Linked DNA regions of Homo sapiens: all the other regions are reported to be linked to region 2. The links are microRNA targets in miRTarBase. Many come from high-throughput screens and were not tested one by one. Region 2 holds a microRNA gene; each other region holds the end of a gene's coding sequence. Distances are from middle to middle.

Region 1 (3,224 bases), 13 Mb from region 2:
TAAGAAAAACCTAGGGTGTCCTTTATCCCATGGAAAACACTCCTGCTTTGGGACAAACTGGGGCCTAGGTCCTCAGGCCTGGAAAGAACCCTTTGATGACAGCCAATATGTTTCTAGAGGGGTTTCTCCAACTCTCTTGAACCCAGGGCCTTAGGTACAAGTACAGCCACAGCTACAATACATGCAGCCTTCCAGAGAGAGGATGCAGGAGGGTGGGGGTCCTCAAGAGTCAACTCTCCTTCCCACAGGAGAGGAAACTGTGCACTCTGTCCTGAAAAAACAAAAACAGAGAACTCTTAACTCACCAAGAATTCTATTTATAATATGTGCAAAAGGACCACAGTAAAAGGTACATGCCCACTATGAAAACATGAATATATATGCAGTGCTTTAAAAGGTTGTGAGGAAAGCTCAAAGTGAGAAAATGATAATTTTCTATTTTTCACACGTTTTAACCTAACATTATCTCATGTAGCTTGAAAACTAAAAGAAAATCTCACAAAAGGAATTTCAAATTACCAGATTCAGGCTAAGTACAGTGGCTCACACCTGTAATCCCAGCTTTTTGGCAGGCTGAGGTGGGTGGATCACCTGAGGTCAGGAGTTCGAGACCAGCCTGGGCAACATGGCAAAACCCTGTCTCTACTAAAAATACAAAAATTAGCTGGGCATGGTAGTACATGCCTGTAATCCCAGCTTCTTGGGAGGCTGAGGCAGGAGAATCGCTTGAACCCGGGAGGCAGAGGTTGCAATGAGCCAAGATCGCACTCCTGCACTCCAGCCTAGGCAGCGGAGTGAGACTCCATCTCAAAACACAACAAAACTAATTACCATATTCAGTGCTAGCACCAAGGGACTAAGGTCATGGTGGTTAACTATGAAACTCACGTAAACCTGCCCACGTATATCCTGATTCACCTGTTAAAATGCTAGGCACTTTATTTTGTAGCAAAACTTCACGCAAATGTTTATAAGATCAGACAATGAGATTCCTCTCCATGTTGTTTTCTTGGGTTTACTGGGTTTACCATGGATTCATCTTAGTTGTGTGTTTTATTTTGCCTGTTTTAGCTATAATTCAATCCCTAGAAAAATGCTGAGGGGGACCTAAAAATACCCCTCTACACAGGATTAAAGAATCTGATAAACACCAGAAAGAATTAGGACTCATCTGAGAAGGCCAAGCAAGTACAAAGTGATCACTATGTTGCCAGAGAAAATAAAGACAACAAACAGACAGAATGGAATCAGGAAAATGTGAGAGTGCTGAGCATTTGAAACCATATTAGGCTAGGTGTGGTGGCTCACACCTGTAATCCCAACACTTTAGGAGGCTAAGCAGGATGATGACTTGAGTCTAGCAGTTTGAGACAAATCTGGGGAACACAGCAAGACCTCATCTATACAAAAAAATTTAAGGCTGGGTGCAGTGACTCACACCTGTAATCCCAGAACTTTGGGAGGCCAAGGCAGGTGGACCACTTGAAGCCAGGAGTTCCAGACCAGCCCAGCCAACATGGTAAAACCTTGTCTCTACTAAAATTACAAACATTAGCCAGGCGTAGTGGTGTATGCCTGTATCCCAAGCTACTCAGAAACTTGAGGCAAGAGGACCATTTGAGCCCAGGAGTTCGAGGTTACAGGGAACTATGATCATGCCACTGCACTCTAGCCTGGGTGACAGAGCAAGTCCCTGTCTCTTAAAAAATAATGAGTTTATTAATAAAAATCAAAGCCTTAAACAGTCTTAGGTATTGCACATTTTAATGTGGTGCACATTTTAATGTGGCCATCTGTACATGGGTTCTTCTCACCCTAGATATAAAAAAGAAGTGTCACATGAAGATGTTCTCAGTATTCTAATTTCTACTAAATTCAAGAATCTCATGACACAAGCCTTCATATTTCTCACAAAGAATTACTCTCCTCATGGATATCCTCCCAGAGATGTCTGGATCAAAGGCAACTTCCAAGAAATGCCTGAAGAGCTGCCCTCACTGTCTAACTCTGACAAAGGATGGCAGTGAATGTATGTTAAAAAAAAAAAAAAGGAATAAAACCCCTTTACCTCTCAAACATTCCCCTACCAAAAAATAAAACTGATCTTACAGGGAAGTCTGTAAGGACATAAAGCAAGAAGATACCTGTAACTGAAGGTTTTCATAAGTTCATAGAGAAAATCCCAAGGTGGGTCAAATTCCAGCATGGCTCTTTATAGGACAAGCAAGTGACAACCTGGTCACAAAGTTTTCTCACATCAATAACAATTATGTAGTAACTTTTCATTATGATTCTCAGATAGTAAGATTTCTGCTCTGGCCAAAGACTGTCCTTAATAGTTATATTTGGAATGTCTTTCTCCAGCATGAGTTCTCTGATGTTGATGGAATGCCTTCCACATTTCCCCCTGGTATGAATCCTTCTGCAATGAGTGAGAACTGAGTGGTGACTGAAGGGATCCTTACATTCACTGTATTCACAGGGCTTCTCTCCAAAGTGACTGCTCATGTGTTAGTTAAGAAAGAGCTGACAAAAAAAATGAAAAGTTTCCTGACATTCTTTGCATTCGAAGGACTTCTTCCTACAGTGTGGGTCCCATTATGAATGATAAAATAACAGTGGGTAAAGGCCTTGCTGTATTCATTGCAGCAATAGGGTTCTCTCATGTATGGACCCTTTGGTGCTGCAGAAGGTGTGACCTGCGTTTGAAGGCCTTCCCACACTCGATACACTTGTAGGGCATCTCCCCAGTGTGGATGACAGAGTGCTGAATGAGGTACGTGCTCCGGTGAAAGGCTTTCCCACACTGGGTGCATTCATAGGGCTTCTCCCCAGTGTGAATCCGCTGGTGCTGTATGAGTTCTGAGCTGCATCTGAAGGCCTTTCCACATGCCATGCAATCATAGGGCTTCTCTCCAGTGTGGATGATGTAATGTTGAATTAGGTGGGCTCTATTGCTAAAGGCTTTCTCACATTCTTTGCACTCAAAGGGCTTTTCTCCAGTGTGGGTCCTATTATGGCGAATAAAAGTAGACCGGTGGGTGAAGGCCTTTCGACATTGACTACACTCATAGGGTTTCTCTCCAGTGTGGATTGGATGGTGCTGCATGAGGTACGACCTGCGTTTGAAGGCCTTCCCACACTCAAGGCACTTGTATGGTTTCTCCCCGGTGTGGATGAGGTAGTGCCGAATGAGAGTTGAGCTCTGGCTAAAGGCTTTCCCA
Region 2 (3,000 bases):
ACATCACCACACTGGCCTCCTTGTGTTCTGTCTGCACAGCCCCCTGACAGCATCTGTCCTGATTCTCCTGCACAGCGTTACCTCCACCAGCTCCCTCATGGCATCATCGACATTGACACCCACACATTTATCTCCACTGACAGCCCCAGGACTCTCTAACCAGTGCTGTCTAACAGAAATAGCATGCAAGCTGCATATAGGATTTTAAATTCTCCAGCGGCCACCCCATTAAAAAATTAAAAGAAAGAGGCCAGGCACGGTGGCTCACGCCTGTAATCCCAGCACTTTGGGAGGCCGAGGCAGGTGGATCACCTGAGGTCAGGCATTCAAGACCAGCCTGATCAATGTGGTGAAACTCTGTCTTCACTAAAAAATACAAAAATTAGCCAGGCACGGTGGCGGGTGCCTGTAATCCCAGCTACTCGGGAGACTGAGGCAGGAGAATCACTTGAACCTGGGAGGCGGAGATTGCAATGAGCGAGATTACGCCATTGCACTCCAGCCTGGGCAGCAGAGCAAAACTCCATCTCAAAAACAAGAAAAGAAAGAGATGAAATTTATTTGTTTATTTATTTATCTATTTATTTATTTGAGACGGGGTCTTACTCTGTCACCCAGACTGGAGTGCAGTGGCACAGCTCCCTGCAGCCTCAACCTCCTGGGCTTAAGTGATCCTCCCACCTCAGCCTCAGTCTCCTGAGTAGCTGGGACTACAGGCGTGTGACACCATGCCTAGCTAATTTTTGTTTTTGTTTTTGTTTTTGTTTTTTTGTTTTGTGATGAAGTCTTGCTCTGTCACCCAGGCTAGAGTGCAGTGGCACGATCTCAACTCACTGCAGCCTCCGCCTCTCGGGTTCAAGTGATTCTCCTGCCTCAGCCTCCCGAGTAGCTGGGATTACAAGCCCTGGCCACAGTGCCCAGCTAATTTTTGTATTTGTGGTAGAGACGGGATTTCACCATGTTGGCCAGGCTGGTCTCAAACTCCTGACCTCGTGATCCACCCACCTTGGCCTCCCAAATTGCTGGGATTACAGACGTGAGCCACCGCACCCGGCCTATTTTTATTTTTTCTGGAGACAGGATCTCCCTATGTTGCCCAGGCTGGTCTCAAACTCCTGGGCTCAAGTGATCCTCCTGCCTCAACCTCCCAAGGTACTGGGATTACAGGCATGAGCCACTGTGCCTGGCCAAAATTAATTTTTAATAATTGCCTTTACTTAACCCAATATACCTAAAATATTATTTCAACTTGTAATTGTTTTTTTAAAATTATTCTTGAGATCTTTCCCATTTATTTTGTCCTAGTAAAGCCTTTGAAATCTGGTGTGTATTTCGGCCTGGCTATATTTCGAGTGCTCAGTAGTCACATGTGGCCAGTAGGTGCCATATTGGACAGCACAGATCTAGACTAAGCTCCCACATCATCTACACTGGCTCATCCAAATACTGTCTACACACATACACAGAGCCTGTCTTAATTTCGTCAGCTCCCGGGGACACACTGTATATGTGGGGGTGATCTCACCCCCACCACCACATTTTCAACACTGGCCCGACAATATAGCATCTGCTGTAATATTCCAACACCCTGTCTACACTGAACCCATCAGTAATATCCACACAAGCTCTTCTAGACATCATTCATACTGTTCCTCCCACCATTGTCTATACTGCTTACTCCCCGCCAGGCAATTGGTACACAGATTCCCTCAGGTACTGTCTATACTGGAGTCCCTCAACACTGTCACTGGGTCTGAGCGAGGAGGAGATCTACACTGACTCCTACCCCTCGCCCCCGAATAAAACCCTGTCCCATTGGCCTGCCCCCAAGGACATTGAAAGGTCTTCGCTGTCAATCACGTATGGGATGGCTGAGCAGCAGCCTAGAGCAGGGTTATCTGGGACTCTTTCCTGCAGGACTTGTCAGAACCTTGAATACACTGCTGTGTGTTGTGAGTGGTCATTGCCTATGAGTGAGAAAAGGAGGAGGCATTTTCCTGCAGGACACCCAAGACATGCCTGGTCCAGGCTACCCAGGAAAGCTAGTGGAGAAAAGCAGCTCCTCAGAAGCCTTCTCCATGTCCCCACTGACCAAGGACTCCTAGGCTTCTGCTCTCTGTGGCACCCCATCTACCTAGACTCCTCCTAGGCCTCTCCAGCTCCCGCTGTTTTCCAAATATCCCCGGGCCTTTTCCTGCAGTGTCGTGAATCCCGCGTAGCCCCAGGCCCCCCAAAGCCTCCCAGTCTCTGAACCTCTGTATCCATTTCCTGCAGACCCCCCAGAGGTATCCATCTCTGGCTATGATAACAACTGGTACCTTGGCCAGAATGAGGCCACCCTGACCTGCGATGCTCGCAGCAACCCAGAGCCCACAGGCTATAATTGGAGCACGTGAGTCCTGGGTCTCAGGGAGGAGGGGCTGGGGGTCTGGATTTCTAGCACTGAGGGAGGAGGGGCTGGGGGCCTGGACTCCTGGGACTGAGGGAGAAGGGGCTGGGGGCCCGGACCCCTGGGTCTGAGGGACGAGAGGCTGGGAGCCCGGACTCCTGGGTCTGAGGGAAGAGGGGCTGGGGGTCTGGACCCCTGGGACTGAGAGAGGAGGGGCTGGGCCTGGACCCCTGGGTCTGAGGGAGGAGGGGCTGGGGGGTCTGGACCCCTGGGTCTGAGGGAGGAGAAGCTGGGAGCCTGGACCCCTGGGTCTGAGGCAGGACAGACTGGGGCCTGGACTCCTGGTCTAAGAGAGGAGGGAGATTCAGAAAAGAGAAAAAGAGGAGGTTGACTTCGGGCCCCCAGTGGGGGGCATCTCTGTTTTGACATCTCTGTTTTGCGGTTGAGGCGTTTAGCAGGTGGTTGAATCCTGGCTGGTGGATGCACCTGCTTTTTGGGGTGTGCCTGCTCTGTGCCCGGTACTTCCCCCGAATCCCATGTGACCCCATGCTGTGCACAGTCAGCAGCTGTTGCCCTGCCCAGGTTAAAGACCAGCCACGAGAGGGCAGAAG
Region 3 (3,224 bases), not on the chromosome of region 2:
CCCAGAAGGTAAGGTTTAGAGCTGACTGGAAGCCAGAACAACTGCCTTAGAACGCCAACGAGGACTGCTACTCTGGCCCCCTTAAGACCTCGGAGGACGGCTTTGGCCAAACACATGGACAGGTGCTTCGCCATTTTATTTTTTATTTTTTTTGAGATGGAGTCTAGCTTTGTTGCCCAGGCTGGAGTGCAGTGGCATGGTCTCGGCTCACTGCAACCTCCGCCTCCCAGGTTCAAGCAATTCTCCTGCTTCAGACTCTCAAGTAGCTGGGATTACAGGCACCTGCCACCACGCCCGGCTAATTTTTGTATTTTTAGTAGAGATGGGGTTTCACCATGTTGGTCCTGATCTTGAACTCCTGACCTCAAGTGATCTGCCCACCTTGGCCTCCCAAAGTGCTGGGATTATAGGCGTGAGCCACGCGCCAGGCCGCTTTGCCATTTTAGCAGGCTTACCAGGCTTAACCACATATTGTGCGTGTGTGTGTGTAAACACTTATGTATATGTGTTTGTGTGTATACACAGACACACACACATATACATAAATGCATAATAAAGTACCTAGTACAATGGGTGGCACACGCTGGCACTTGATGACTGTGTTTTCTTCCTCACTCTTGTTTCCCAAGGTGGCATGTCACAAACAGCTTTTAGGCTGCTCAGACACAGTTCTTTCATTCCATCAGATGCCACTGAAGATTCGCCCTCCTGATTATTAATTATAATAATTCACTTCAGAACCCAGGGATTTTATGGAACATCAACTAGGTGACAGGCAACACATTTGAGGCAGAGATGATTATTTAGCTGATGAAAAGCCACTACCAACAGAAAGATTACAACCTCTGGAGTAGTTATTGCTACCTTTGAAAAGGTCAAAATCCGAAAAGATCCCAGTGATTCCTAACGGCAATTTCTACTTGAATCTATTCAAATAAAAATGGAGGTTTTAATTAATTAGGCTGCAGGCTTTGCCCAATAGTTCACATAGGTTGTATTTCAGTTTAAGTGCAGAACCAACAAAACAAAATATCCTTTGGGTGTTTAGCAAACTAAAGGAAATTGTACCTAATGTTTTGTGTATTTCTTTTAAATCAAAACCCTAAGATCACTACAGGAAACCACACCAGAACGTTATGTGATATCAAGTCATACACTGATGATTAAATATTACCTGTTATTTATATACAGATGGAGAAATGCCGAAACTAATCTCTATTCAGGAAAGGTCAACTAGTAAACAAACTTATAAATGCACAGTGACTAAAAAGGGAATAACATTAAATCTTAAGGCAGCATTGGTTGAGTCTTCTCTGGTAAAGGAAGTATTACATATGTCAATGACTAGTGTATGATTTTTTAAGAAACCAATTAATTAAAATAAATACTAAAATAATGTTTTCAAAAAGAAAGAGGACTGATTTTAAGACTTCTACAAAATGAATTTGTATTAGAGTTTTAATTTGGGATTAGAAAGCATATTAGGAGCATAATGGAATAAAGTTACACAAGATTTTCCTCAAATGCAAAGTCAAGGTCCCTAGAAATTATTGTTACTCTTAATGAGCACTCTTTGAGCTCCTTTTTCACTTGTTGTTGCACTCAGAGTAGTTATTAGAAAATTCTGCTGATTTTTAAATAATGTGGTCAGGTTGCATTTTACCTGAGTGAAATGGTTTCAAACTGCATTACCTACCATTATGCGCTAATTTTATAACTACATCCTTAATGCTGAGTTTGCTTACCTGGTGGGGTGCCTAAATCATCGTGTCCCAAGTATTGGTGCCATCCTAAAATGATGACATGTAATTGTGGCTGAAAAGTCATACATTGACAAAAATATTCCAAATCTCTTTAATAAAGAAAGTTTGGGGATCTGTGTTTTTTGCAGCTTGTTTGGTTAGCTTTTCTTGGCTAAGACTAAAAATTACCTTTAGTTGTTTTATAGATCCAGTGGTATATGCTGACCGAATAATGGGATGACACGAAGAACAGACAGAAACCTCAAAAAATGTTCCAATCAAAGGAGCTCTCACATGGTGCTGAGAAATAAAACATAGGCACTTCTGCTTCAGGAGGTTTTCACATTTTGATCACAGATTGGCTTTTCCAAGCCATTTTCCTTCACTACTAGAAATTCCCTCATGGTACAAACTGTCTAGTTCACTAGAAGCCTTGTTCTCACAGACACCCTTCTGGTGCGTGAATCTTTTATCATAAAATTCTCTCCATTGACAGCCGAGATGGGGTTCCTACCGCTGCTGGGAGCCGTGGGAGCAGCCCAAGTCCTTGTCAGATGACCAAGTGTCGCTTGAGGATACTCCCCGACACAAGGCTGCCTGCCCTCCAGAACCACCTTATCCACCAACAGAAAAAAAAGGCGCATCAAGCGCAATCTGTCTCCTGGAAATAGGGAACGTGTCTGCCTCTCTCTAGTTTCTAATTGTGAGTGTAATTCAACAAAGTGTACAGTCTTCCTAACGTTCTAAAGCTACTGCGCTACTGGGATTTTTTTTTTAAACGACTACTTAACAGTTTCCTTTTTTGTTTGTTTGTTTTGAGAAAACCTGTGCTAGAAAGGCACTAGAGAAAATGAATTTCCTCACTCTTGTATGTAACAATTATACATTGTGTTAGATTCTAAAAGCTAACGAAGTTGACGCACATTTGGATAAACCATCCGAATGATTTAGACTCATCTAGTTTCATTTTAAAAAGCAAACCCCAAGTCAAAGGGAGGGCAGGCCACACCAGGGGAGAGCCGCCAGACCGGGAGGTCACACCTGGTCAGCCCCTGCCTCCAAGGAGCTCCAGCTGCTCCAACCCTGGCTGGCCCGAGCAGGTGACAGGGCAGTGGCCGGGCCCCAGTGGGGGCTCACTGGCAGCAGCTGTGGGAGCCAAGCCTCCGGGAGACCTGAGTGAACGAGACAAAGGTGAAGTTCTCACAGTTTTCCAGCTTGACCTTCTTGGCTAAGTTTGGGACAATTCCCCGAAGAGAGCGCAGCCCCATCCTCTGCTCCTCATACCACACGCTGCCCATGTCTGTGGCCTCCTTCCTGGCAGTCAGGTAGAAGGGGGACTTGGCCTCCATTTGGGTGGGCGGCCGGTGGATGTACATGTACTTGTAGAGGAGGCAGTAAGGGCACTGTTTGTGTCCCCGGGAATGCTCATGGTAGATCTTCCCGTGACACACTCTGGTGGAGCCGCTCCGACTCTCCCGCTTG
Region 4 (3,224 bases), not on the chromosome of region 2:
GCGCTTGGCCAAGAACTACATCTGGGCTCTGTCGGAGATCCTGCGCTCAGGCAAAAGCCCAGACCTGGTCTCCTTCGTTCAGACGCTTTGCAAGGGCTTATCCCAACCCACCACCAACCTGGTTGCGGGCTGCCTGCAACTCAATCCTCGGACTTTTCTGCCTGAGCAGAACCAGGACATGCCCCCCCACCTGCCGACGGCCAGCGCTTCCTTCCCTGTACACCCCTACTCCTACCAGTCGCCTGGGCTGCCCAGTCCGCCTTACGGTACCATGGACAGCTCCCATGTCTTCCACGTTAAGCCTCCGCCGCACGCCTACAGCGCAGCGCTGGAGCCCTTCTTTGAAAGCCCTCTGACTGATTGCACCAGCCCTTCCTTTGATGGACCCCTCAGCCCGCCGCTCAGCATCAATGGCAACTTCTCTTTCAAACACGAACCGTCCGCCGAGTTTGAGAAAAATTATGCCTTTACCATGCACTATCCTGCAGCGACACTGGCAGGGGCCCAAAGCCACGGATCAATCTTCTCAGGCACCGCTGCCCCTCGCTGCGAGATCCCCATAGACAATATTATGTCCTTCGATAGCCATTCACATCATGAGCGAGTCATGAGTGCCCAGCTCAATGCCATATTTCATGATTAGAGGCACGCCAGTTTCACCATTTCCGGGAAACGAACCCACTGTGCTTACAGTGACTGTCGTGTTTACAAAAGGCAGCCCTTTGGGTACTACTGCTGCAAAGTGCAAATACTCCAAGCTTCAAGTGATATATGTATTTATTGTCATTACTGCCTTTGGAAGAAACAGGGGATCAAAGTTCCTGTTCACCTTATGTATTATTTTCTATAGCTCTTCTATTTAAAAAATAAAAAAATACAGTAAAGTTTAAAAAATACACCACGAATTTGGTGTGGCTGTATTCAGATCGTATTAATTATCTGATCGGGATAACAAAATCACAAGCAATAATTAGGATCTATGCAATTTTTAAACTAGTAATGGGCCAATTAAAATATATATAAATATATATTTTTCAACCAGCATTTTACTACTTGTTACCTTTCCCATGCTGAATTATTTTGTTGTGATTTTGTACAGAATTTTTAATGACTTTTTATAATGTGGATTTCCTATTTTAAAACCATGCAGCTTCATCAATTTTTATACATATCAGAAAAGTAGAATTATATCTAATTTATACAAAATAATTTAACTAATTTAAACCAGCAGAAAAGTGCTTAGAAAGTTATTGTGTTGCCTTAGCACTTCTTTCCTCTCCAATTGTAAAAAAAAAAAAAAAAAAAAAAAAAAAAAAAAAATTGCACAATTTGAGCAATTCATTTCACTTTAAAGTCTTTCCGTCTCCCTAAAATAAAAACCAGAATCATAATTTTCAAGAGAAGAAAAAATTAAGAGATACATTCCCTATCAAAACATATCAATTCAACACATTACTTGCACAAGCTTGTATATACATATTATAAATAAATGCCAACATACCCTTCTTTAAATCAAAAGCTGCTTGACTATCACATACAATTTGCACTGTTACTTTTTAGTCTTTTACTCCTTTGCATTCCATGATTTTACAGAGAATCTGAAGCTATTGATGTTTCCAGAAAATATAAATGCATGATTTTATACATAGTCACAAAAATGGTGGTTTGTCATATATTCATGTAATAAATCTGAGCCTAAATCTAATCAGGTTGTTAATGTTGGGATTTATATCTATAGTAGTCAATTAGTACAGTAGCTTAAATAAATTCAAACCATTTAATTCATAATTAGAACAATAGCTATTGCATGTAAAATGCAGTCCAGAATAAGTGCTGTTTGAGATGTGATGCTGGTACCACTGGAATCGATCTGTACTGTAATTTTGTTTGTAATCCTGTATATTATGGTGTAATGCACAATTTAGAAAACATTCATCCAGTTGCAATAAAATAGTATTGAAAGTGAGAGCAATTGTTGCATTTCTTCTTAAAGGGATTCTGTTTTTATTTTTGGGGAAAGTAGTTGCTTTTTTGCTGAGTTAAAAAATACTAAACACTATATGTAGAATAAAAGAAAAGAAAAAAGTTTACCTTGGCATATGCTCTTGTCTGTTTATCTTGCACAGGGAGTCACCAGTTCTATGTAGATAATGAAAAGACCTAACTGATATTTCATTATTTGGAATATGGGACTGGACGGCAGTACAAACAGTGTGTTTTTTTCTTTGTTTTAAGTGGCTTAGCCTTTAGGTTTTTTATTTCCATTTTTAAAAATGATTGTTACATGTTTTCTTCTATTTCTTTTTTTAAAAGGTGGATTTTAATAATTATTAACAAGCAAGACATAAACAAGTATCCTAGCTTAGTTTGTCTATACATTTAAGATGTATAAAACATTACTATTTTCTTGGTCTTCTGTTATCTGTACATTTTTCTGAACTAAACAGTTTTATCTTGCAAACTAGTACTGTCCCAGAAAAATTTATACACCTTTAGGAAGTACCAAAGGGAAATGAGTTAATTAATTTAAAGAATCCAAGAGAAGTAACATTTTATAATTGTTCTATTAACATCTTGTGATGATTTCCATCATTTTTCCAAGAAAAAGCATAATGGATTATTTGTACTGAAGAACACACTATTTGTACTGTATTTAGGAAGGTGTAATTATTTCCTCCCCCCACCCTTTGGGGCACTATTCTGTTGTTTCATGAACACAACTCACTGGAAAAACTTATGGATGATTCTGTCTATTGTTAAGTCCACTTCAAAAAAAAAAAAACAGTTTGGCATTTCTTTTCCTCTGGATGTATTGACTGACAGTCATGATTCCTAGGGAATATCATTTTGGCACTTGTGCCCTGGCTCTACTGTGGTGCTCTGATTACTGTCATTAGTAACTCCATTGTTTCTACTCTGATTCGGGTGCCACATTGGATGACTACCCCCCTTCCCAAGCTTGTTCCTTTAATCTCCTTCTCATTGGTGATTTAGGGGTTCCAGAAAGCTGACCTCATTTAGCAAGCTGCTCCAGAAAAATGTGAGTAATGTAATGGACAGGAACAATTAGCCATACTAATAACATTGCCAATGAGGCTGCGTCAAGCTGTGACAGAAGCAGTAAGGAATACTTCGACGTTAAAAAAATGTTTGAGAGCAATTTAAAATATATTATTTTAACATGTTTTCTATCAGCCTTCATCACATGACAGAAATACTTTTAA

Evidence for each region. The annotated mature microRNA hsa-miR-4531 reads AUGGAGAAGGCUUCUGA and lies in region 2 at 2,064-2,080, opposite strand. An mRNA with a match to its seed (bases 2 to 7 or 8) in the 3' UTR can be bound and repressed. Matches are read on the target gene's strand: a 7mer-m8 pairs with bases 2 to 8, a 7mer-A1 pairs with bases 2 to 7 and ends in A, and an 8mer does both.
Region 1: miRTarBase lists ZNF550 as a target of hsa-miR-4531. The part of its 3' UTR that is shown has no 7-base or 8-base seed match.
Region 3: the mRNA of KIAA1958 is a reported target of hsa-miR-4531. Seed matches in the 3' UTR shown: 7mer-m8 at 1,193-1,199.
Region 4: miRTarBase lists NEUROD1 as a target of hsa-miR-4531. Seed matches in the 3' UTR shown: 7mer-A1 at 1,276-1,282.

What each region holds. Positions count from the first base shown.
Region 1 is chr19:57,544,313-57,547,536 of GRCh38, forward strand. It overlaps ZNF550 (zinc finger protein 550), which reads right to left. Exons shown (of 4, transcript NM_001397372.1): 4 at 1-3,224. The coding sequence ends at 2,663. Among named protein-coding and RNA genes, the nearest start is that of ZNF550, 14 kb to the right of the region's middle.
Region 2 is chr19:44,651,626-44,654,625 of GRCh38, forward strand. It overlaps MIR4531 (microRNA 4531), which reads right to left and starts at 2,107; the gene lies at 2,061-2,107. PVR (PVR cell adhesion molecule) reads left to right here. Exons shown (of 8, transcript NM_006505.5): 4 at 2,275-2,392.
Region 3 is chr9:112,659,721-112,662,944 of GRCh38, reverse strand. It overlaps KIAA1958, which reads right to left. Exons shown (of 4, transcript NM_133465.4): 4 at 1-3,224. The coding sequence ends at 2,876. Among named protein-coding and RNA genes, the nearest start is that of INIP, 57 kb to the left of the region's middle. RefSeq lists a silencer at 2,250-2,450.
Region 4 is chr2:181,675,209-181,678,432 of GRCh38, reverse strand. NEUROD1 (neuronal differentiation 1) reads left to right here. Exons shown (of 2, transcript NM_002500.5): 2 at 1-1,966. The coding sequence ends at 643. Among named protein-coding and RNA genes, the nearest start is that of NEUROD1, 3.7 kb to the left of the region's middle.